3 linked regions of the Homo sapiens genome follow. The protein of the gene in region 1 interacts with the protein of each later gene in a biochemical or structural test. Each region holds a gene or a part of one and is shown in the gene's direction. Other genes may lie near its edges.

Region 1 (8,048 bases):
CTCACTTGTTCACTGCCATGATTGCATGATCCCTCCTAATTTTCTCTCTGTGCGTTTGAGTGGTTCCTCTAAAATAAATCTGACCTTGTCACTTCCCCCACCCTTAAAATCTTAGACTGATTCCCCGATTTTTCTGGGTATGCAAATCTTACAGACCCTTACGTGGTATTTGTATTTCTTTTACTATCTTTGATGGGGAAATAGTAAGATGGCAATAAGCAATGTGCCATTCCTTGTATTTTATATATCAATTGTAGAGCATCTATATACATTTTTAAAGGTTATGTGCATGTGCGAGACAAGTTTTTGGTCTGGCAGTGCTTGCTGCCCAGGCAGTGACACTGTTGCCCCCAGGCACTTGTCCCACAGAATCAAGGCCAGCTCTGTAGCTTGTCCTCAGAGCCCTCTGTGATGCGGCTTTGCTGGCCTTCTGCAGCCTTTTTCTGCCACCCTTTTCTTCCTTCTCACATACCCCTCTCCCCACCCCACCGCCAGTCTTGCTCATTCTTTTTAGGAGTACCTAGCAATAGGGCGCCTAGCCAGGGCACCCCACATGCCACCGTGTGCTACTCAGATGGCTGTGCTTAGGCAGTCCCCTGTGTTTTCAGCTCCCAGTGGGCTTAGCAGATCACTGCCTCCAAGTGCATGCTAGCATTCCCTGTCTCACATCACCTTGGCACACCTCTGGCATAGCTTAGCTCCTTTGTTAAAGTTCACCTTCCTATAGCTGATGCTCAGTCACGAATGAGATACTTTCTGAAGAGCAGAAACTGTCTTTTTAACCAGACTATGGTTGGTAGCACATATTAGGTGGTCTGTGTGTGTCGGAAGCAATCTGTGACCTCTTGTATCTAACTGACATCCTGAACACAGGCATAGCTGGAAAGGGCAGTTTCTTGATTGGATGAAGACCTGGGAGCACAGTATCTTTCCCTGAGCTTCATGTATTTGATACTTATTGAGTGACCATTTAGAGCAAGGCCCCTTGTAAATCAGTCAGAGTGAAGAGTGAATTGTGCTGATGGAAGAATTTATAGTGAATACCATAGGGCTCCCTGCATTCATTTTTCCTTCTTCTAAAAAGGAAAGCAAATACTGTGATTTCCTTTTGGGTAATAATCTCCCAGTGTGTATATAGTATTCGGGGTCTTGGAGTTCTGGAGTAGGCATGTGATCCCACAGAGGCCTATTAACTCTCGAAGGGAGCAACTCAGGAATGAGGCCAGGGAGGTTGTAGTCATACAGCAGTTCCAGTGGTGGTTCCCTGACCGAATTGGCCACTGGTTTCTGTTTTTGTTTTTTTTAGGGAAAGATTTTTCTCTTAAAGCAGCCACAATATTAGCCCTATTATAAATGTAAAAGTACCGGAAATAAGTACTGTAGCAGCAATAATACTGTCTTTCATCCTTAAAGCCTCACATTTTTCTATTTTTTGTTACTCTTTATTGTAAGAAGAAAAAAAGAGATTATTTGATTTGGACAAGCCAAATCCTCTTTGGTCTATGGGGTGGTTACCTCAAGGGAGAGCTGGCTTCTTAACTAAAACTTAATATTTTTTAGGAATTCCGAGAAATCTCTTACCTCAAGAAATTGAAGGTTAAAAAACAGGACCGTATATTCCCCCCAGAAACCAGCGCCTCCGTGGCGGCCACGCCTCCGCCCTCCACAGCCTCGGCTCCTGCTGCTGTGAACTCCTCTGCTTCAGCAGGTACAGCATTTGGGACCCCGGTCTTAGAGCTGCTTTGCAGGAATTGTTTGCCCACTACTTGCTGGTGGTGTGGAGCTGGTGAAGAAAGTATCCGTCAAGGGTCTCTCTTTGCTGACCCCACCATGGGGAAGCCTTGCCCTGCAGGGGATAGGCCTCTTCTCTTGGCTTGTTACACCCCTGACCACAGCAAGGTGGGAGAGTGTTAAGAACATAGCATCGGCTGGGAGCAGTGACTCACACCTGTAATCCCAGCACTTTAGGAAGCTGAGGCAAAAGAATTGCTGAGGCCAGGAGTTTGAGACCAACCTGGGCAATGTAGTGAGACCCCATCTCTACAAAAATGTTTAAAATTAATCCGAGTATGTGCCTTTAGCCCTAGATACTCAGGAGGCTGAGGCGGAGGATCCCTTGAGCCTGGGAGGTCAAGGCTGCACTGAGCTATGATCACGCTAATGCACACCAGCTTGGGCGATGGAGTGATACCCTATCTCTAAAAATAAAATAAACATTGTAGAAGAACAAGCAGCTCTTACTCTGGGAGGCTAGGAGAGGGGCTCCTAAGAAAGGCTAGGTCGACAGCCTTACCTGGAGTTGGGCGCAGGGTCTCCTGCCTGACTGCACTGCAGAGGAGCATCCCAGGCCTCACTCTCCAGGCTGCCCTGCGCCCACCAGTCATCCGGGCCCTGGTGTGATGCTCAAGTCTCTGTTGTATGCAGAGGGAGTTACTAATCAGCACTAGTGAGAAATGCCCCAAGCCAACCAAGACAGTGAGAGCAACGTATTTTTTTGGCAGGAGAAGTGACCCGCTGCTTGTTTACTCAGAGACATGTGGCATAGTCTATTGGTGAAGGTCACAGTTTGGTGGGTGGAGGATGAGGGTTCCTTCCTTGAACATAAACCTGTTATTGACTTCCTTTTCATATCCTGAGAGGGGACCAGTGGTCACTGCAGTGTGTGCTGGTGGTCATCCCGAGTCCACTGTGCTGCTGGCAGCCTGGGTCCAGGTGCCCACATGAAGGGCCAGTTGGGGGCTGGCATTCTGACCCCTCCATGGAGGGTTCCCTCCTCTGCTTTCCCCTGACTTGCAGTTCAGCATGAGTCAATAATTTTGTTCTCTGGAGACCTCAGCAGTTTCAGTTAAACTGTCAGTGTTTCCTAGTTGTTTGCCCTCACAGGGAAGGCAGGAAGGACTTTTCCTTGCAGCTACTCCAGTTCTGGACGGGTGTCACCTGCACTGTGTTGTTTGCTGTGAACAGAAGGCACACCCCTGTCCAGGCCTTTCTGGCCTGGGTCAGTGCACACCAGGCTGCTGCTTTTCTCCTAGAATCAGTTAGCTCAGCTCCGTGTGATTGTGCTGGCCACTGCTTTGAGGGACTATCATGGACATGTCTCATTTTAAAATGGGGTTAATTCATAAGAATTGCAGTTTGTTTGGGAGAATAACAGAAGGAATTGGGGGTTCATGTGACCTTACCCCTCTTCCCATCCGACTCCAGCCTCCTGGTCCCTCGTCCGCAGATGCAGCCTTCCTAGCCTGACCTTGGCGCGGACCTGGGGTAACCCGCAGCTGCCTGGCTCACGCCGCGAGGCTGGCCTGGCCATGGAGTGGCATTTTGTGGCTTGCTCCCTGCCCAGTCCTTTCTGTGCTGAGGGACATCTGTAGGTACTCAGGTGGCAGCTTGCTGTCCCGTCCTGTTTTCTCGCGAGTGTATTTTCATAGGCTTTTCCCAGGAGCTCGCTGCTTGGCTCACCTGCTCCTCCACCTCCCCTTACTGGGGAGCAGCACCAGAGCTGGCCTTGCTGAATGATTCTCTCCTTTCATCCCAGATAAGCCATTATCCAACATGAAGATCCTGACTCTCGGGAAGCTGTCCCGGAACAAGGATGAAGTGAAGGCCATGATTGAGAAACTCGGGGGGAAGTTGACGGGGACGGCCAACAAGGCTTCCCTGTGCATCAGCACCAAAAGTGAGTTGAATCTGAATTTGTGCAACAGGGACAATGCTTCTGTATCTTATGATTGTGATGACGAGTAAGTGAGGAAGAGTCGAACACAGCGCTGAAAAACTGGATCTTAACATCATCATCGCTGTGGTTCTTTATGAAGGGAAACCAGTATTTGCTCTCAGTGTTGCTGCTTTGTACTGTAGATTCACATGCATTGCGTGTTCTCAACTAAAGACGGTAAGCTACTATAGGTTGAGTCTCCCTAGTCCCGAAGCCCAAACAAATTGCCTCAAAATTCAACACTTTTTGAGTGACAACATGATGCTCAAAGGAAATGTTCATTGGAGCATTTCAGATTTCAGAGTTTTGGATTAGATGCTCAGTCAGTAAATATGAAGCAAGTATTTTAAGGTCTGAAAGGTTTCTGGTCTCAAGCATCTCGGATAAGGGAAGCTGCTCAACCTGTATTCTCATCACTTCGCACTGCTCTGTAAGATGTGCATAGATATCTGCCAAAACAGAAGTTCAAGGTTCAAGTATGTTTGGAAAAGGTAGGGTAAAACAAAGCTAAACAGGTTTCTGTGTGGGTTTATTATGCTGATTACCACTGTAGGTCTTCAGGAACCAGAGAAATAGAATACAGGATTTCCCATACATATTTGACATCAGGGTGTTTTTTCTTTGGAGTGTTTGTTAACATCGTGCTGTAGAATGGTTTGGAGAAGGCTGCCCTGGCTCATCATACCTTAGAAAAGGGGGAATGTTGCTGATAAAAACACTCTTGGGAGCATTAGACTTGGAAGCAAAGGAGAGCTGTGAATGCTGAGGGTTTGGAAGTACACACTAAATATAACTGTAGTAATTTGAAGTTTCAGTTTTGTTTTAAACTTGTATTTTGGTTTTTTTTCCTTTCAATTTGAACAGAGGAGGTGGAAAAGATGAATAAGAAGATGGAGGAAGTAAAGGAAGCCAACATCCGAGTTGTGTCTGAGGACTTCCTCCAGGACGTCTCCGCCTCCACCAAGAGCCTTCAGGAGTTGTTCTTAGCGCACATCTTGTCCCCTTGGGGGGCAGAGGTGAAGGCAGAGCCTGTTGAAGTTGTGGCCCCAAGAGGGAAGTCAGGGGCTGCGCTCTCCAAAAAAAGCAAGGGCCAGGTCAAGGAGGAAGGTGAGGGCCCCAAGCTGCCCCCTCCAGGGCCAAAAGCCAGGGACATTGGTGGCCAGGTTGTTGTCCACGGAACCTCTCCCTTTGTGTCCCTGACATGGCCTGTTGAGTGCTGCAGAGCAGGACACAGAATGGCAGGCGCTTTGGGGTGGCGGGAGTAGTGTGTATATAGATGCCGAGTTGACAGATGATGGGAATGAGAACAACTCATTTGCCTTCTACCTTCCCCTTACTTTTTAGTTACATTTAACTTCATGTTTACATTTTTCTGTTCTCCTCCAAGGTATCAACAAATCTGAAAAGAGAATGAAATTAACTCTTAAAGGAGGAGCAGCTGTGGATCCTGATTCTGGTAAGCAAACAGGACTGCCAGCAAAGTGGGCTGTGCCGCCCCCCAACCCCCAGCTGACTAGGAGCACACATCCAAATGCCCGCAGCATACCTGGGGCAGTGTGGTCGTGCCTTTGTCCTCACTCAGGCCTCCTTCACCAGCTCCCCCAGTCCTGAGAACACACATTTGTGGGGAGCCTCCCGAGGGTGGTGGTAGTGTATCCAAGAGGCGTGAACCTCAGGCCTGCAGATCCCTTCTCCGTGAGAGTGCTAGCACCTCAAGGGGAGAGAAAACTGTAGGTGCTTTTCCTCTGGGACAGGACTGGAACACTCTGCGCATGTCCTGGAGAAAGGTGGGAAGGTCTTCAGTGCCACCCTTGGCCTGGTGGACATCGTTAAAGGAACCAACTCCTACTACAAGCTGCAGCTTCTGGAGGACGACAAGGAAAACAGGTGAGTTCTGCAGGTGTAGCCTGGTTGTGCAGAGACATGGGCCCGTCCTGCATTGGTTAGTGCTGTGCCATCAGCCTTGTGAAACCCGTTAGGCCCAGTGCCTGGGGAATGAAATCTAATCACAGAGATCAAAAACAAATTATAAGGCCTTTGCTTAAAGGGGAGAAAGAAGCCACTTACTAACCAGTAGCGTTGCTGTCCTTGTACAGTTGTCCCAAGGTATGGTTTCACATATTCTTCTGCTGGCTTTTCTTTTTGTTTGGTGTTTTGTTTTTTGTTGTTGTTTTGCAACTATTTGTTTTGTTTTTTGAAATAGTCTCGCTCTGTTACCCAGGCTGGAGTGCAGTGGCGTAATCACAGCTCAGCGGAGCCTTGACCTCCCAGGCTCAAGCAATCCTCCCACCTCAGCCTCCTGAGTAACTGGGACTATAGGTGCGCACCACCATGCCTTATTTTTTATGGAGACGGGCCTCGCTGTGTTGCCCAGACTGGTCTCAAACTCCTGGACTCAAGTGATCCTCCCGCCTCAGCCTCTCAAAGTGCTGGGATTACAGGCATGAGCCTCTGCACCCAGCCCCAGCTGGCTTTTCTTTCAGCTACTTGAATCAAGATTTTCTGATTTTACATATGTTTTAAAACTTTGAAGCAAATAAAGGTTGGCAAGCGTTGAACTTACTCTTTAATGTTCAAACTCCCTAGTAACTAAAGAGGTTGGATTTGCCTTTTTTTTTTTTTAACATGGTGAGACAGGCAAGGTTGGAGTGTGGATGGTGGGGTACAGCAGCTGGGAGGTGGTGAGAGGTTGGGCTGGCTTTTGTCCTTATGTTTCTAGGCAGAGTGGTCCTTATCTAGTGAGTTCATTGCCCCTCAGTACAGCCACCACAAAATAGCATTTATGTGTCAGTGTAAAGGCATGTGGAAGGAACTCTTACTAAATTCTAACGTTGATTGTGGATGTGGACATTTTTCTGGTGGCTTAGATTTCCTGGTGTTAAGTGAAAGGGTGGTGTAGGCTGTTAGGGTCAGAAAAAATTTTCAACGTAGATCAAGGTAGTGCTTCTCAAAAATTTTCACAGGAAAAACCAAGCAGAGAATGAATTTTTATACCCCTGTTCAGTAGCCCAGAGAATGGCCAGGGAGTCCCAAATTTTCTTTGAAATCTGTAGTTCTATCTTTAAAATGTACACAAATCTTGTATGTGGGTTTATGATATATATATATTTATTATGAAATGACAATTAAGTGTTGCATTACCTCTGCTTTGAGTTAATCAAAAATTAGCTCATCCAAAGCTGAGCAGCACAGCAGCTGGGTGTGTGTGATGTGTACCCTCAATTGAGATGGAATTTGAACATGACAGCCTGCATCTCTAGGTCACCGGACCTGAGGAGCCATTGCCACTGCCCCCCTCATTTCATCATGTCTTGGCCTTGGATCTGAGTTGAAAGTTTCATTATTTTTAGGGTACAGCTGTAAGGGTTGACTCCTTGAACACATGACTTCCAGATAGTACTTTGTATTTCTTTGGGGAGAGGACTAGAATCATTTTTATGCAAAGGTCTCCAGACTCCAGGATTCAGTCCTCAGGCTTGGCTGCCAGAACCAAGTTTAAACTATTCTTTGGCATTTTTTGTAGTCAATATGATTTGAAAGTTTAATGAAAAGTAAAATAAAGACCCTTTATTGTTATAGCAGTTGTGTTTGTTCTGTGTTAATCACCATCCTTTTGGGGTGTGTAAAATTCTTCCCCACGTGAATGTAATGGCAGGAAAGGGGAGCTCCTGAAATGGGACAGCTGACCCACACATGTGTATCTGACACCCTCCTTCCCACTGCAGGTATTGGATATTCAGGTCCTGGGGCCGTGTGGGTACGGTGATCGGTAGCAACAAACTGGAACAGATGCCGTCCAAGGAGGATGCCATTGAGCACTTCATGAAATTATATGAAGAAAAAACCGGGAACGCTTGGCACTCCAAAAATTTCACGAAGTATCCCAAAAAGTTCTACCCCCTGGAGATTGACTATGGCCAGGTAACCACATAATGCCCTTACACTGTCTGCTTCTAGGAAAAGGAAGGGACACCTTATTCTAGAAAATCCACATCGTGGATCAGGTGGCATCATAGTAAACATACTACCAAATGTTGAAAGGAGAATAATAGTCCTTCACAAATTCTCCCCCAAAAATAGAAGAAAATACTTCCCAGCTCATTGCATGAAGGCCAGTACCACCCTGATACCAGAGCCAAAGCAGCACAGGAGAACTACAGAGCAGTTTCCTGTGAATAGACATGCAGAAACCCTATGAATAGAGATACAAAATCCTAACAAACCGAATCCAGCAGCATAGACGGATCTATACACCACTCCCAAGTGGGATTTATCCCAGGAATGTAAGGTTGGTTCGACATTTAAAAATCAATGTAATATATGAATAGAATGG
Region 2 (8,434 bases), on another chromosome or scaffold:
GTAAATGGGCAGAAGAGAATGTTGTTGGGTCTAGAAATTATACTCTATGATCATCAGTGGAATTGGAGAGAAGACATAGGAAGAGACAGGCTATCAGTCTTCAAATATCTGGCAATCATAGACAGGAAGGACTGAATCAGCCTGGTTCTAGAGGGTGGAAGTGGGGCTAGAAGGCAAACGTTACAGAGAGGTGGTCTTCAGTGCAAGCCTAGACTACAACTGGACTGTTCTGTGACATAACAGAGATGCTATTAGTAGAAGTACAGGATTTCAGCTTGGGCTGGCTGACTGACAGTGTTCCTATTGAGAAAATTACTGAATAGTCCTGGACACTTGACTGCCTGATTTTCAAGGACTCTTCCAACTCTAAGAAGATAGTAGGAGACAATTAATTATCTACTGCTTGATTCAACATACAGAATTTGCATATAGTGGGGCATCTTTCTAATATTTGCCTATTTGTTAAATATTGGTTTCCTGGATTCTTATATTTAATGCTATAGAGAACAGTTTTTAAGAAGAAAACCCCACACTAACTAAAGCAGTTTGTAGACACTTTTTTACTATGGTGGTAACCACAGATTCAGAATAAACAATTTGTTATAGTGAGTAGCATATAATCTGTTTTTATGAAAAAAGAGAAACAAAAGTTTTTAAAAGTTAAAATAAAGGTTCCTAAAAAGTTATAAACTTTAACAAAGACAAGTGTTAAGGATTCTTTAGAATAACAGTTTTCTTTTTAATATGGAGAAAACAAAAAGGAGCTGAAAGTCCTTTGTCTTGCTATCTAAGAATAGCACACTAGATGGTGCTATAAGGCTGTCAGAAAGAGAGTTTTACCAGGCTAGTGTGGCATTCTGATGGTAAAGTGTTCTGGAAACTTTCCACTTACTTTCAGCTCCTGAGAGCCGTTCCAGGTTTATATAAAATTAATGGGAATCTCAATTGGACAAACTTTAGCCCTGAGATGACATTAACTTAAAACTAAACCACAGGCTTAACACATTAAAAATAGTTTCACTATTTGACATTTCAATCTGATTCCACTGAAATAGAAATGTTAAAGTCATTAAAATGTCAATGTATTAATTTAAATGTATTGCTATTAATTTCACTTAGCTAGTCTTCCCATGAGCCTAGTTATAACCACCACTTAATGAATCTTTAAGTCAGTTTAAAGTGGCTTCCTGAAATTTTGAATTATCATTAAGCTGAACATACAAATCACTCTTACATTTAGTATTGCAAATATATTAACACAAATACATGAAACATTGTATTTGGAAATCACTCTATCAGTATATTATTTCTTATAAAAATAACATTTCATGATTTTTCCACATTACAATAAAACCAGAAAAATTTTACTAAAGTGCAAAACAAAAATAAAGCTTTACTTTTATAATAGTTCCATTTCATTTTCTTTTAAAAAGGTGAACAACAAAATGAACGAATAAAGATATCGCTTTTGCAACCTAAGAGTCATTTAAGTTTTAAACTTTCAAAGACCTGAGATTTGTGATTTTTTTTCCCCTTATCTTTCCAGTTCTGCTTCTAGAATTTCCCCCCATGTATCTGCATCCATTGGGTACATGATTTTTTCTGGTAGGCTAATGGGAGAACAAATGTTGCTGTATCTGCCACTTAGCCATTCGTGTTTCACTTTACTCTTCTGGTAATTCCTCAGCAGTATCACCTGAAAGAGGTAAATCACCGTTAAAAAAGACTGTAGTAGGTGGTTGGTTAGTGAATGTGTTTAAAGCAAGAGAAGCAGATTGACAGGGCTGAAAAAAAGAGTATTTACATTTATATATACGTACATTAATAAATGTATGTGTCTGTGTACGTGTGTGTATGTATATGTGTATTTATACTGAGTGGCATAAGGTGAAGTGGAAAGAAGGAGCTAATTCCCTTCTGGTTAACGCAGGAAAATTCCCGAATTTAGAATTTTAAAAATGCAAAAGGATAAATGAAAGATAGTGTGGAAACAGTGTGGTTAGCAGGAAAAGACTAATAACTTTAACTCATTTCCAAGAGTCAACACACTGTCTGTGTTATTCTGCATATGTAATTCTGACTCCTCCAAGCAGAAGTTAGAATTGGCGCAAACCTGCTATCATAACGCTGTCAACAACACTGCAGATCGCAAAGATTAAACTTACCCTCCAGGAATAACCACTTTCTAGATCATCATCTATTTCTCTTCGGCACACAGCTCTTACAGTCATGCAGTGAGGTTTCCATAAAGAGTCACTGTTTCTTATTGTGTCATTCCAGCTCCTGCATGTCAATGAAGCCCTGCACAGACTCCGAATGTCCAGCTGACTGAAAATTTTAAAAGTGATTTCTGCAGGCAGCAGTTCAAAAAAGTTGTTTTGACTCTCATTTTTTTCCTTCTCAGCATCCACAGAGTTCGCTTCTGTGTGAGAAACTCTTAAATTATTGTTTCTCTTGGAGTTTTTATGCATAGCTTAATGTTTTAAGTTATCCTCATATGTAACCTAAAAGGCAAAATTTAAACATGCTCAGTCTCCAAATAGGAGTATAAATCCTACTTTAAGTCAGATGCTTTTTGGGTATAATTTAAGAACTCTTTCTTGACTTTAGCTTCTCAATCTGTAAAATGGGCCAATGCTGCCGCTCTCCTGAAAGTTCTTGCAAGGATTAACAGTGATAGTGGGTAAAATATCTAGTCTTGCTACATCTGAATTGCACATGGGAGGCACCCAACATGTTAGTTTCACTCTCACCCAGGCTGGAGTGCAGATGTGTCATAATAGCTCACTGCAGCCTCAAACTCCAGCCTCAAGCGATTCTCTTGACTCAGCGTACCCCGCCCCTCTTTAAAAAAAAAAAAAAGAAAAAAAAAAAAACAGAAAACCAAAAACTGTTTTACGGAGAAATGGTTCTTGCTATGTTGTCCAGGCTGGTCTTGAACTCTTGTCCTCAAGCAATCCTTCTGCCTCAGCCTCCCAGAGTGCTGGGATGACAGGTATGAGCCACCATACCCGGTACTTTTGTACCTTTGAAAATGTATATGAGTCAATCCTATTAAACTCCTGAATACTTGTTGTACATGGGAACTGATGCCTCATCATTAATTTGCAATTTGTGACTTAATCATAAACTTGCTGGACTTCTAGTTGTTTATATAAGAATTTTATCTACTTGTATCTTATAGGTAGGTAGGTGCTTACATTTGACACAACTACTATCTGAAATGGACAAGAAGATGAGATCTGGATTATGAAACAAAGTCTCAAATATTCAACTCAGTCATAAGAGTAGTGTTTTAGAAATGGCCCCTTGAAGCTATCCTACATGCATAATTACAAGCTAAGGATAATAGTCACTGAAGACATCAAGCAACAGTGAGTGACAACTGTAAACAATGTTTAGAACTCAGCTAGGTACAGTATGTGACTCTTTGAAGCCCAGATTTAAAGCTCAGTTTCAGCTAATTTACCTAAGGTGAATGGTGTAGGCTTCCCAAATCAGTTGAAAGCATGACTGGGTACATCACCATCCTTGAGTTACTTTTGTATATAAAGACAGCTTGTATTCACTTAAAATCAGTTTATTCCATTTTGCACTTCCTTTTATAACGGGGGTTGGTTGTGCAAGAGGAGAGGTTTGAGGTAAATACTTCTTTTAACTCAGCTGAACACAAATCTCTTTTCTAGACGAGCTACTCAGCTATGTTTTCGGACTTGCCAAGACCACGGTGGCTCCCATTCATGATCCAGATTAGCTGTGGTGGCTGGAACTGCAGTCTGTGTTCAACAGAGGTCTTCTTCTTGAGGGTTAGGAGAAGTAAGAAAGCAAACGTAAAAACGGGTGAGTCAAGAGCAAGTTTTTGCCATGCACCTTGGCCCCTCCCACCACCAATACAAACCAAAGCCAAACCACAACGTTCTTGAAAAGAATCTCACATTAGGAAAACGTTACAGTGCATTTAAACGTTACAGTGTGTTTATCCACTTCTCCCAGGATCTTACTGGGAGAATAAAATGCGTCCCCTTGTGGAATTCCTGTAACGGGAATGAAGGCTTTTGAATTTCACAGCAGGGGATACCTTTGCGAGTTTCTAAAATCCCACTAGGAATCTTTCTTCTACGTCCAGGTTCGCCTGGATGCCTGGAAACGACCCCTCTTCTGCCCTTTCTCCTTTATGAACTGAGCTTTCCTGAATTCTCTCTCAAGTGAAGTAAAAGCTCGTCCCCCTTTCAACTATCATTCGGAGGGATAGATCGGCGGCAGCGCAGTCGGAGGGGCGGGGAGCCCCACTCCGTCCAAATCCCGCGGGTCAGGGCTAATCACCCCACGTCCCGTCTGAGCCACCCTCCTTGTGTCCCGCGCGGGTTGCAGCTGCTGGAACCCAAGAACACAGGGCACTGACAAGTGACAACAACCGTCAGCGTTGACTGTCACTGCGGCTCCAGGCCGCGGAGGGAAGGCTGAGCTTGCGTCCAGGCCGCGTCCCCGGGAGCGTAGACACCTAAGCCAACGGGAACGGAAGACCCTTCTACCTACTAGGCCGCGGTAGCTTCTCCTCCCGCGATTTAAATCCACCGGAATTCGAATCCTTCCCCATAGCTCTTCGCATCCCGCCCACCTGAGTCCCGCCCTGCTCAGAACTCGCGCAGGCGCCGAGAGGGGCGCGCAGTGCCTTTGGGGATTGGTAGTTTTTTCCAGGGCGTCTCCGCTCGGGAAAGGAAGTGAAGAAAGCCACCAGGACTACAAGGCCCGGCGTCCTCCAAGATGGGAGGGAGGTGAAAAGGGTGTTGGGGAATAAGCCGGGGTTTTTAAACAGTAGTTTTGAGGCGGCGAGACTGGGGAATCCCCGGTTGCGTCATTAGTAGGCGTGGAGGGGCGGGACTCGTGAAGCTGCGCTGGGGCCGGGCTCTGAGAGGACCGGCGCAGCCGCGGGGAGCCTTTGAGGCCCTCCCTCGGTGTTTTTTCCCAGGGCGTGGGCTTGCCCCGCGCGTGTCTGTGGAGGGCGGAAACAGCGGAGGGGCCAGTCTCCTGGCGAAGGGGCCTAATCCTTGCCCGCCATGTCCGGGGGCTTCGAGCTGCAGCCGCGGGACGGCGGTCCCCGGGTGGCCCTGGCGCCCGGGGAGACGGTGATCGGCCGCGGGCCGCTGCTGGGAGTAAGTGTGGGCGGGGGCTTAGCGGACCCCGAGAGCCGTGGAGTTCCGCGCCGGCTCCTGAAGACCGGCCCTAGTCCTGGCCGGTTTCCCCACCGCACTGGTCCGCCGGTCCGGATTTTAGAAGTTTGGGGCCGCACGTTTTTCAGTTACCTTTAAGCCAATTCACAAACATTTCTTTATGTTGCTTTTAAAACACTGACTGTATTACCATTATTATCTTATCCAGGGATTGGCAAACTAGTGCCTGGGGGCCAAATCCAGCCTATGTTTGTATGGCCCCATGAACTAAGAATGATTCTTAAATTCTGAAATGTAAAATGTAAACAAAAAATCTACTAATTTTTCAGGGGGAATAGTTGCTCCAAGGGTTGAGGGTATTGCGGCTTGTCTTGTAAAGCCTAAAATATTTACAGTAGTGTCTGGTCCTTTACAGAAAAGTTTGCCAAACTGTGATATTACGTCTTCTAGGCTAATTTCTTTTAACCTTTGGTCTCCTTTGCAGAGCTGTGTGGACCTTATTTATTTATATTATTTATTATTTCCAGTAAAATGAGTAGCTAACCCTTCATAAGTAATGTGTATAGCGTTCGTGTCATTGGTCTAAGGAGACATTACCTATACCAACATCTTTAACTGTCTCAAGACCGTATCAGTTAGCTATTTTTATTATCCTCATTGTTCAGATGAGAAAATTGAGCCATACATACATTATTTAAAGTCCATACATAAGCTTTTGGACACATAATGCCACAAAGCTAAATATTCTCTACCTTCTTTGGGAGAGGTTTAGGAATAAGAACATTTGCATATTGCATTCTGGAATTCTATAGATCTCTTAAGTACATCTAGTTTTCTATTTTGTTCTTTAACATTCAACATTTCTTGTTTGGTGCTCACTGTGTAGAACATTTTGCAGATTCTAGCACTGTGGGGCATACAAAGATGAATGGAACATGGGTCCCTACCCTTTAGGAGTTTTCTCTTGGGACCGGGGAGACACCTGTGTCAGTGAGCTAACACCAAGGAGTAAGGAGTGTGTACTGTTGTCCTGGTTAACTTCCAGAGTCTAAATGGAACCATTGGTACTTGCCTTAGGTCCCTTCTGGGAGCAGGGAAAGGAGTGGTAGTTTAAGATTGTATTATGGAAGCTGGTCCTAAAGGGGTGTGTGTGTGTGTGTGTGTGTGTGTGTGTGTTGTGTGTTGTGTGTTGTGTACATGCACATGTGCATGTGGTAAGGTTATTGAGGAAGTAGATATTCAATTGCTGTTCATTTTTTTACTGGACAAGTGATTATTTAAATATTTAACATCATTTCTATTTTTTTCATCGTTTGTTGGCCTATACAAACACTGGAAGGAACTGTCTGGAGGCTTTATTTTTCTTTTAAATTCGTAGGTTTGAAACTTAAGAGTATGTGCTTAATCTAGTAATCATATGTCTGGTGACTAACGAGTTTTGACTTGCTTAAGAAATTGTCACCAGTAGAGTACTGTGGGTCTGGTTAAAAGGTGGATGAATTTTAGGGCCGTGGTTTAGAAACATGGCAACAGATTGCAGACCGTTTCATTATTTGTAGCTTGTTCTTTGTGTTGTCGACTTGCTAATGTGAGATGAGCCTATTTGGTATCTGTTTTTAAAAATGGTAAGGAGTGAAAGCTGGGCAATTACCTGGTCAAGATTTTGCTTTTCCTTTTGAAATAACATTCAGGGATGAGATTCTTTTGCCAAGGTTGGCGTGTATCAGAAGTGGTTATGAATGACATCCTAAGTGTGTTAAAGGAAAAATTTGGAGAACAAACAAATCGCCTTGTAGTTTTTTCGATTTTGGAGCTGACAGATGCACTCGATTCTTCTCTGCACTGGTTAAAACACAACATAAGGGCTCCTGTTTCCAACAACAGCAATTCCAGTGAGATTTATTTTTGTATTGTGAGAGAGCGAAGACTGAGTTCTAAGTGGAAAACTCAGTAAGTTCATTGTAAATTGGAATCGGAAACGATTAATATAAATAAGGATGATTTTGAACTTTCTTAATTGGGCATGTTTTTCTGAGACAAGCTTCACAAACCTTGATGGCCACACAAACATAAAAGTTTATAATCTGACTGTGTAAAATAGTCTTGGTAGTAAAACAGTTTGACAATGAGAATGGTTTTGTATTTTTATGGTGGTAGGAAAACACAACAGAGAAACCTGTCACAGAGAACAAAGGACAATGAAATTTAATCTTTCTTGTTCCCTTTGCTTTCATGTGAGTCATCAGAGAACCCCAGGTCTTTGTTTACTAGATTTTGATTCTGCTCCATGATTGGCATCAGTTAGAAGGTTTTACAGCAGGATTAATCTTCAGAGAACTTGAGTTAAAACAGCCAATCCAAAAGATTACATATTGTGTGATTCCATTTATATAACATCATTGAAATTGCGAAATTGCAAAATTTCAAAAATGGAGAACAGATTAGTGGTTGCCAAAGGTTAAAAAATTAGGCAGCAGGGCAGAAGGGAATGGATATGGCTATAAAATAGCAACATGAGGGATATTTGTGGTGATAGAAATGTGCTTTGTCTGGACTGTGTCAGTATCAATATCTTAGGTTGATATATTGTACTATAGTTTTGTAAGACGTTACCATTAGGGGAAACTGGATAAATGGTACAAGAGATATTTCTATATTATATCTTTCAACTACATGTGAATCTACCATTATCTTAAGAAATTTAATTTAAAAGGGTTTTACAGTACGACATGTCAAGCACTGTTAGGCCAAAGTATTTGCTTTATGGGTTTTAATTAAAGCTGTTACACTCTTAAATGAAATCTACTATTTCTGATTTCAGATTTTTCTTATTTTGTTTTGACAGCAGGGATTATATGACACATTTCTTTATGATCTATTTTCCTCCTAGGAAACAAGATAGCAAAAGATATCTAGTGATACTTTCTCAATGTAGATGTAATTAAATTGACTGCTTTGATTAAAAGGAGAAGAGTCCTCAGTTGGGGGAACAGGGAAGGTCATAGGCTTCAGTATAGACTCTTCAGGTGGCATCAGTTCACCACTTCTAAGAATGTTGTAAATGTTCTACAAAGTTTACACAAAGTAACCATCCCCTGACCTGGCAGCTCTATACTTTTAACTGCTTGTTGCAGAATCCTGGCTGTCCTGGAATGCTGTTCCTACCTGCTCCAACATAGGTTTCTTCCCTTACGTTTCTTTTATTTCTAGATTTGCCCTTCCCTCATTTTATTATTTAGCCTACAACCAGTGCCTAGCACACA
Region 3 (7,524 bases), on another chromosome or scaffold:
TGCAAAGTACCTGGTATATATTAAGTGCTCAATAAGTGATAGTTGCTTTGATTCTAAGAACTGGTTCACCTTGTGAGATATAATTGTGTAATGGAAGAATGAAAGCAGAAACTTTAGTTTCTACTTTTACATTTCCTGGGCCATTTTACTACCCTAAATGAGAAGCTGGGCTTCCAAAACCCACTTTAAAAGTAAAGACTAGGCCGGGTGCGGTGGCTCTTGCCTGTAATCCCAGCACTTTAGGAGGCCTAGGTGGGCAGATCACTTGAACTCAGGAGTTTGAGACCAGCCTGGGCAATACAGCGAGACCGTATGTCTACAAAAAATACAAAAATTAGCCAGACATGGTGGTGCATGCCTGTAATCCCAGCTACTCGGGAGGCTGAGGCGGGAGAATTTGAGTCCAGGAGATCGAAGCTGCAGTGAGCCGTGATTGCGCCGCTGCCCTCCAGCCTGGGTGACAGAGTGAGACCCTGCCTCAAAAGAAAAAAAAAAAAAGAATAAAGATTAATGGAGATTTGGAACATCTTGATACTGTATCTTGGGAATCTAAGCATTGTAGAATTGTGTTATGTGAGTTATACCATTGTGGTGGGAAGTTTTTGATTTTTGTTTTAACTGTGTTGAGTTGCAGTTCTTAGAAATGACCCGAGGTGTTGTCTTACAAAAGAAATAAACTGTAATCTGTATCTTGATCTGATGAGGGTATGTAAATATAAAAAATCGAGCTGTATACTTTCTATATGCTTTATGTAGTTCACTATATATAATTCATAGCTCAATTAAAAAGAGAGAGAGAGGCTAAATTGTATGTACCATTGCAAAGAAATCATTATCCCCAGAACTGACTCACATACACCTTTAACAGTAGAGGGAGAACTGAGGTATTAATTTGGAAAAATAATCACTGGGATAATTAATATAATGCAGTGGTTTTATGACTGATTTTTTATTAACTTCTATTTTCTTTGTATTCTAGTTAATAAAGGTATCCATGGAGAACACTGAAAACTCAGTGGATTCAAAATCCATTAAAAATTTGGAACCGTGAGTATTTAAATTGAATTCTTTATAATCAGAGAAAGATGGGGATGTGTAATAAGCAAACCTCGAGCAGTGGGGCAAGAGGAAAGAGAGTGGTCTCTCTCTCAGGCCAGAGAGACCAAGTGACTTCCTACCTCAGACAGCTGTGTGGCTTTGCATAAACTGACTTTTCTTCTCTGAACCTCGTCTTTAACATGGGGCTAAAACTTTCACAGAACTGAAGGGAAGATGAAAGGAAAGGCCTAGTAGGGTGTGTGACCCATAGTTGGAAACCTAGTCCTGGAACCAAAAGGACACCACAGGAGAGGCAGGACTCCCAAGCGCCGGTGCTTTCTACCCTCCCGAATCGCTCTATAGGATTAGAGGGTTTAGGTTTGGGAGGAGTTTCTTGACCTCTTGTTTATGAGTTTTTACGACTAAAATGCAATGCCAGTTTTCAGTCCGGGGACAAACTGCCTAGTTATGGATGAATTTTACCCTTTTTTTCCCCGTGTCTTTTTGGAATATTCTGCTTATTAATGCTTCCAATAACTAGCAGATGGAAAAAGGAAAAAGATAAAACTCAAATTCACTTTTTAATTCTTGTCTGTTATTATTTATTTGGGATCTCTCGTAATACTTTAAATTCTGAAAGTTTATTTCTGAAACCCAGTATTGTTATTCTCGGCTGCCCTGAATATTACAAACTAATTTTATTACTAAACAATATGATTACAGAAATACTATTAACAAGTTACCACTAAAGATTTCACAATTTTGTTTAGCAAAGGGATTTTTCTAGAAAGTAAACTTTTAAAATGCAGTCCCATTTTAGAGAGTTGTTGCTGTCATTTAAATCATTTTAGCCAGTGCAGTGGCTTGCTCCTGTAATCCCAGCTACGTGGGAGCTGTGGCAGGAGGATCACTTGAGGTGGAGAGTTTGAAACCAGCCTGGGCAACATAACGAGACCCTGTCTCTACAAAAAAACAAAAAACAATTAGTCCACCATAGTGTGTGTGCTTGTAGTCAGTCCTAGCTACACGCCAGAGGTTACAGTGAAGTAAGACCCCATCTCTTCAAAAAAATCCTTTGAAAGTGATTTACACATTTTCCTACTATTTTTTTTTTCTTTCTTTTTTGAGACAGGCTGGAGTGCAGTGATCTGATTATGGCTCACTGCACTCCTGGGCTCCAGTAATCCTCCTGAGTAGCTAGGACTACAGACATGTGCCACCATGCCTGGTTATTTTTGTTTTTTATTTTTGTAGAGATGGGGGTCTTGCTGTGTTGCCCAGGCTGGTCTCCAATGCCTGGCCTCAAGGGATCCTCCTGCCTCGGCCTCCCAAAGTGCTGGGAGTACAGGTGTGAACCACCCTGCCTGGCCCTACCTTTTCATGTCATGCAGAACACCACTTCAATAACAAGTTGCACGGAAGCCCCAGACAGGTTTAGGGTTGTTTCGATCCTTTGGTAAGTTGCCCTCACAGTCCCGGCTTTCACAGCCTCTGCCTTTTATTAGGAGTATCCCCTCGTGGACTAGCTATCATATGCTTGTAAAGTACCTACCTCCTTAGGAGGCACCCAGAGCACGTGGGGAAGGGGTGTCGGGAGCTGGGAGTCATAAGTCCCATGATCCATCATCTGTAGGACTCAAAGGTCAAGTCACGCTTTCAGGATTTAACTTCAGTCTGTAAATGTGAGGCTGTTCACCTCTGGTTAAAAATCATAACTGTTTTCTCACGTTGACTCCTTTAATTTACTACATTTAATCTTTTTCCAACAGTATTTTTGGAATTGTGTATAATGTGAGATGCTCTTAAGGTTAAGTGCATGAGTATATGGACTGTAGGTGTTAGTGTTTGGTAGTTCCTAGACCTGTTTTTGCCTGACTCTTGGTCTAGATCAGGGATCAAGCTTAAGGCCTGTTTTTATCAACTTTCGTTGGAATATAGGCACATCCATTCGCTTACATATTGTCCTAAGCCCGTTTCACCAGTATAATTGAGCAGCTATGGCTGGGCACAGTGGCTCACAACTGTAATCCCAGCACTTTTGGAGGCCAAGGCAGGAGGATCACTTGAGGCCAGGAGTTCAAGACTAGCCTGGGCAACATAGCGAGATCCTGTCTCTAAAAAAGAAAATACAGAAATTAGCTGGGCATGGTGGGGCATGCCTGTCTGTAGTCCTAGCTACTCAGAAGGCTGAGGAAGGAGTATCACTGGAGCCCAAGAGTTCAAAGTTGCAGTGAGCTATGATGGCACCACTGCACTCCAGCTTGGGTGACAGAGCCAGACCATGTCTCAAAAAAAAAAAAAAAAGAATAGAATTGAGTAGCTGTAACAGAAACCAGATGGCCCACAAGCCTAAAACACTTAATATTTAGCCCATTAAAAAAAAAGTTTACTGACCCCAATCTAGATAGCAGAGGTTTTTTTAGATAAGTGACTTCCAGACAGATATTTTCAATTATTTACAATAATGCTTTTATATATTAATAAATTACTAATTTGTTTAGCTCATGGGGTTTAAGGAATAATTTATGAATTGTGATAAATATTGTGCTTTGAGTTATATTTGCATTTTGTTGATTTCCCATCATTTCAGGGTAATTTTTAAGATTTTTACTCTTACCTCAAAGGATAAAATATTTCACAAAGTTAATAAGTAATTTTTAAATTATAAAGGTATTTGATGAAATTTTGAAGAATTTAGAGGAAAATGTAAAACATGGAAGTTAAAAGCCTGAACTCTGAAGTCCAACAGATGCTTTCCTTCCTTCTTGGCTGTGACACAATATTTGCATAACCTTTAGCACATTACTTAGCCTCACGTCAGGTCATTTTCTCATCTGTATAACTGTTGATGTGAAATTGAAATGAAGACAGCCTGGTTTATAACATTCAACAAGTGTTAACTGTTACTGTGAGTTATAAAAATTGCACTAATATAAACAGAAGGCGTGGTCATTTCTACCTTTGTAAAGCTATTATTTGATTTCTAAACAGAAAGATCATACATGGAAGCGAATCAATGGACTCTGGAATATCCCTGGACAACAGTTATAAAATGGATTATCCTGAGATGGGTTTATGTATAATAATTAATAATAAGAATTTTCATAAAAGCACTGGTATGTGTCTTACATAATTTTTAATCCTTTTCAAATGTTTGTGCCATTTACATTTGATATAATATTAAAAGCAGTATTATTGAGGTATTAGACAGTAAACCGTGACACAGACTAGCTGTGAAGTAGAGATTGGGCAGGACCTACAGGTCCTCTGATACACTGTGAACGCGTCACTCTTCTGCCCAACTTCATAGCCTCCTCTTGCTGGCCTCCTATCTGTATGCTTGGTTGCCTCTGCCCTGACTTCTCTGTAGCCCTTGCTTCTTTTTCTTCTTTCTGCTTCCTCTTTGATCCCAATGGAAGGTTCTCAAAAAAACAGTTAAGTGGTAGTATTTATTTTTTCCCCAGAAACTGCAAGAGATATCACAAGCATTGCCTTATTTAATTTATGACAACCTGGAAAGTAACGATGAGATTCTGAAAGGTTAAAGACCTCGCGCAGTCACACAGTATGGCGGCAGAGCTAGGTCTGTGTGGCTCCAAAGCCCAAGCTCTGAATCCATCTTCTGTTCTGCTTCACTTCCTTGTATCCTCATGTGCTCTGTTGCCTGTCTTCCCTTACCCTACGAAGCTCCCCATCTTAGAGAGACCTTTCTTTTACTCTGTTCCTTTTGATTCCTTTGATATTTTGTCTCCTTCCCTTCTTCCTTAAATTTTGAATACATGTAGTTTAAGCTTGTACTCTTCATTTGTTTCCATTCCTTCTTGAGTCTTTTTCCATTTTCTGTCTCTACTACTAAAACTGCTTGCTTTAAATTTACCATGGCCTTGCCACCAGATCCCCCTCTCGATTTCTGTACTATGTACAACTTGAATGTAGTACTACATTTGAGAATGTTTTTTTAGAAATATAGATAATAAAATCCTTCACAGTGCCAAAAAAGCTAATTAATATTTGGTGTATTGTTATTTTTTCTTGGCAGTTCTTTTTAAAGCTTGATTTTATTCATAACGTATAAGCAATGTTGTCTTCTGCTTGTTTCACTTAAAGGAATAGCATTTTTCATATTGCTGCATAATTTTCATATCTGTTATAATGATTATATAATACTGCATCCCCAAAACTACCATTCACTTAATTTGAATAATTTACTGTATGAATGAACATTATGGCTGTTTCCCTTTTAAATTGATGCTATGATAATTCTTTGAATTGGCCTATTAATCATATTAGAGTTAATTTTTAATTAGAGAAGCTGTAGTAGATCTAAGGTGGGCCAGTACCTATCAGAGTGGTGGTGGAAATGGAAGGAAGCCAGATTACACTGGGAAGATAGCAGGGTTTGTGTCAGATTAATTATAAGGAGTGAGAAGAGAATAGTTGAAAATGGAGCTCTAAATGGCATCAGTTTTATTGCTTTTGGCTATAAGTTGAGATGCCACCTTCAACCATTAACTTAAAAACACAACACCTTGTTTACTTTTGCTTTACGCATATTTGAAAATTTACTTCTAGATATTCTGCCTCACATTTCTAGTTAGGATACCTCCTTCCTATAGAATTTTGCACTGTTGGCTCTATTGTTTCAAAAACCAAAAACAAGCATATTATTCCACTACCACCAGCACCTCCCCCCACATATTTAGACCAGCAGTCTGGGTTTTGCCCAGTGAGCTCCTTTCCTACTTTGCAATGTAAAGGTCAGGTTCTCATGAGATCTCTGGCAGGCTGGTGTTGGGCCAGGCGCCATGGCTCACACATGTAATCCCAACACTTTGGGAGGCCAAGGCAGGAGGATCCTTGAGCACCAAAGTTCAAGATCAGTCTGGGCAACACAGGGAAATCCCATCTCTACAAAACAGAAAAAAGGTAGCAGGGTGTGGTGGTGCGCACCTGTAGTCCCAGCTACTCGGGAGGCTGAGGTGGGAAGATAGCTTGAATCTGGGAGGTTGAGGCTGCAGTGAGCTGTGGTTGCTGTACTCTAGCCTGGGCCACAGAGCAAGATCCTGTCTAAAAAATAAAAATAAATAAAAATTAAAAGGCAGCCAACACATCAGCACCAGAAGCCAGTGACCTTGTCACACAGCTGAGATAATCAACAACATTTTGGAGATACATGTAGACTTTCTGTATTTAATCTTCATACCCATCAAATTTACTCAATTCTGAGGGATGTTTCCCACCAAGATTTAGCATTTTGAAATCTGAGTGCATCATGCAGTCAATCTGTACGTTAATGTGGAAGGTTCTCTAAAGGAGTGGTAGAAAGCCCAGGAGCCCTGGATACAGGCCCAGCATAGCTTTGTCACTTTGGACTGGTTTGTTAACTCTGCTACATGTCCCACATCTGCACAAGTGAAACTAGTAATAATATGACTCTCATGGTGATTGGAAGGATTAGAGATTAGCCATAGCAGAATACCTGATGAACAGTAATAATGTTTGGGGGTTTTCCTTGAAGGCACTATAAATGTTGTAATGCTATCTTAAAATTGTTGGGAAGTTAGAGTCAGAGAAACGCATTTCCTCTGAGTGTGACAGATGTGTGTATGTATTATAGGATCGTATTGTTTTCTAGTCTTATTTTTTTAAACTGATGATTTTCCCATGGCAACATTTTATCTGTGAAAATGACAACATAGTATATCCCATTATATAAGTTAGTATAGCTTGTCTAACCAAACCCTTATTGTTAGACATTTGTGTTTTTCACTACCTAAACCGCTGTGAAAGACATCATTTTGGCTATAACACTGATGAGCTTATATTATGAAGTATCTTATAAGCTACAAAATTGAAGAAATTTTGTTCACCATGTTCAAAATAGTTAGAATTCTCTTACCATTTAAAAGGAAGAATTTATTGTGGACTTCTGAATTGCTGAGTAGTTAATTTCATTTCAAAGTAGTTATTCTTTGTTTTCCATACAATTAAAAGTAATTCTTTCTGTTCCAAGGAATGACATCTCGGTCTGGTACAGATGTCGATGCAGCAAACCTCAGGGAAACATTCAGAAACTTGAAATATGAAGTCAGGAATAAAAATGATCTTACACGTGAAGAAATTGTGGAATTGATGCGTGATGGTAAGAAGAAACAATTAGAATGAACTTCATTGTACAATTAATTTTATACTATGGTCTAGCAATAATTATATGTATAATAAAATATGAGAATTGTGGAATTATACTGTACATAACCCTAATCTTACATACTTTAGTAAGAAGTTTAAAAAAAGTTATTTATGCCAACTTCCTAAAATGGTTTGAGATGTGTTGCCGTGCCCCAGGTTAGGTTAAGATGACCTCTTAGTTTTAGTCTCAGTTTCTTCATCATGTTCCCATACAGTATATCTGAAGTTGTTGAATAAAGTCATGGATTTTTTTTCCTTTTATTTGCAAATGTCTTTACAGTTTCTAAAGAAGATCAC

What was found. Proteins that work in one complex are often made in the same cells at the same time.
Region 2: the proteins of PARP1 (region 1) and APLF form a complex in vitro, tested with the Homo sapiens proteins (3 studies listed by BioGRID and IntAct, with this or other methods).
Region 3: of the proteins of PARP1 (region 1) and CASP3, one has a biochemical effect on the other in vitro, tested with the Homo sapiens proteins (9 studies listed by BioGRID and IntAct).

Annotation. Positions count from the first base shown.
Region 1 is NC_000001.11:226,376,696-226,384,743, reverse strand, and holds part of PARP1 (poly [ADP-ribose] polymerase 1), read left to right. Parts: intron 1-1,560; coding exon 1,561-1,708; intron 1,709-3,535; coding exon 3,536-3,676; intron 3,677-4,579; coding exon 4,580-4,822; intron 4,823-5,102; coding exon 5,103-5,171; intron 5,172-5,469; coding exon 5,470-5,602; intron 5,603-7,440; coding exon 7,441-7,636; intron 7,637-8,048. UniProt on the Homo sapiens protein: Poly-ADP-ribosyltransferase that mediates poly-ADP-ribosylation of proteins and plays a key role in DNA repair.
Region 2 is NC_000002.12:68,462,675-68,471,108, forward strand, and holds the start of APLF (aprataxin and PNK-like factor), read left to right. Parts: upstream 1-4,910; 5' UTR 4,911-5,057; coding exon 5,058-5,153; intron 5,154-8,434. Other genes in the region: FBXO48 (F-box only protein 48), read right to left, coding at 1,535-1,696, 2,166-2,471. UniProt on the Homo sapiens protein: Histone chaperone involved in single-strand and double-strand DNA break repair.
Region 3 is NC_000004.12:184,631,924-184,639,447, reverse strand, and holds part of CASP3 (caspase-3 isoform a preproprotein), read left to right. Parts: intron 1-979; coding exon of another isoform or gene 980-994; coding exon 995-1,047; intron 1,048-4,029; coding exon 4,030-4,154; intron 4,155-7,051; coding exon 7,052-7,180; intron 7,181-7,507; coding exon 7,508-7,524. UniProt on the Homo sapiens protein: Thiol protease that acts as a major effector caspase involved in the execution phase of apoptosis. Following cleavage and activation by initiator caspases (CASP8, CASP9 and/or CASP10), mediates execution of apoptosis by catalyzing cleavage of many proteins.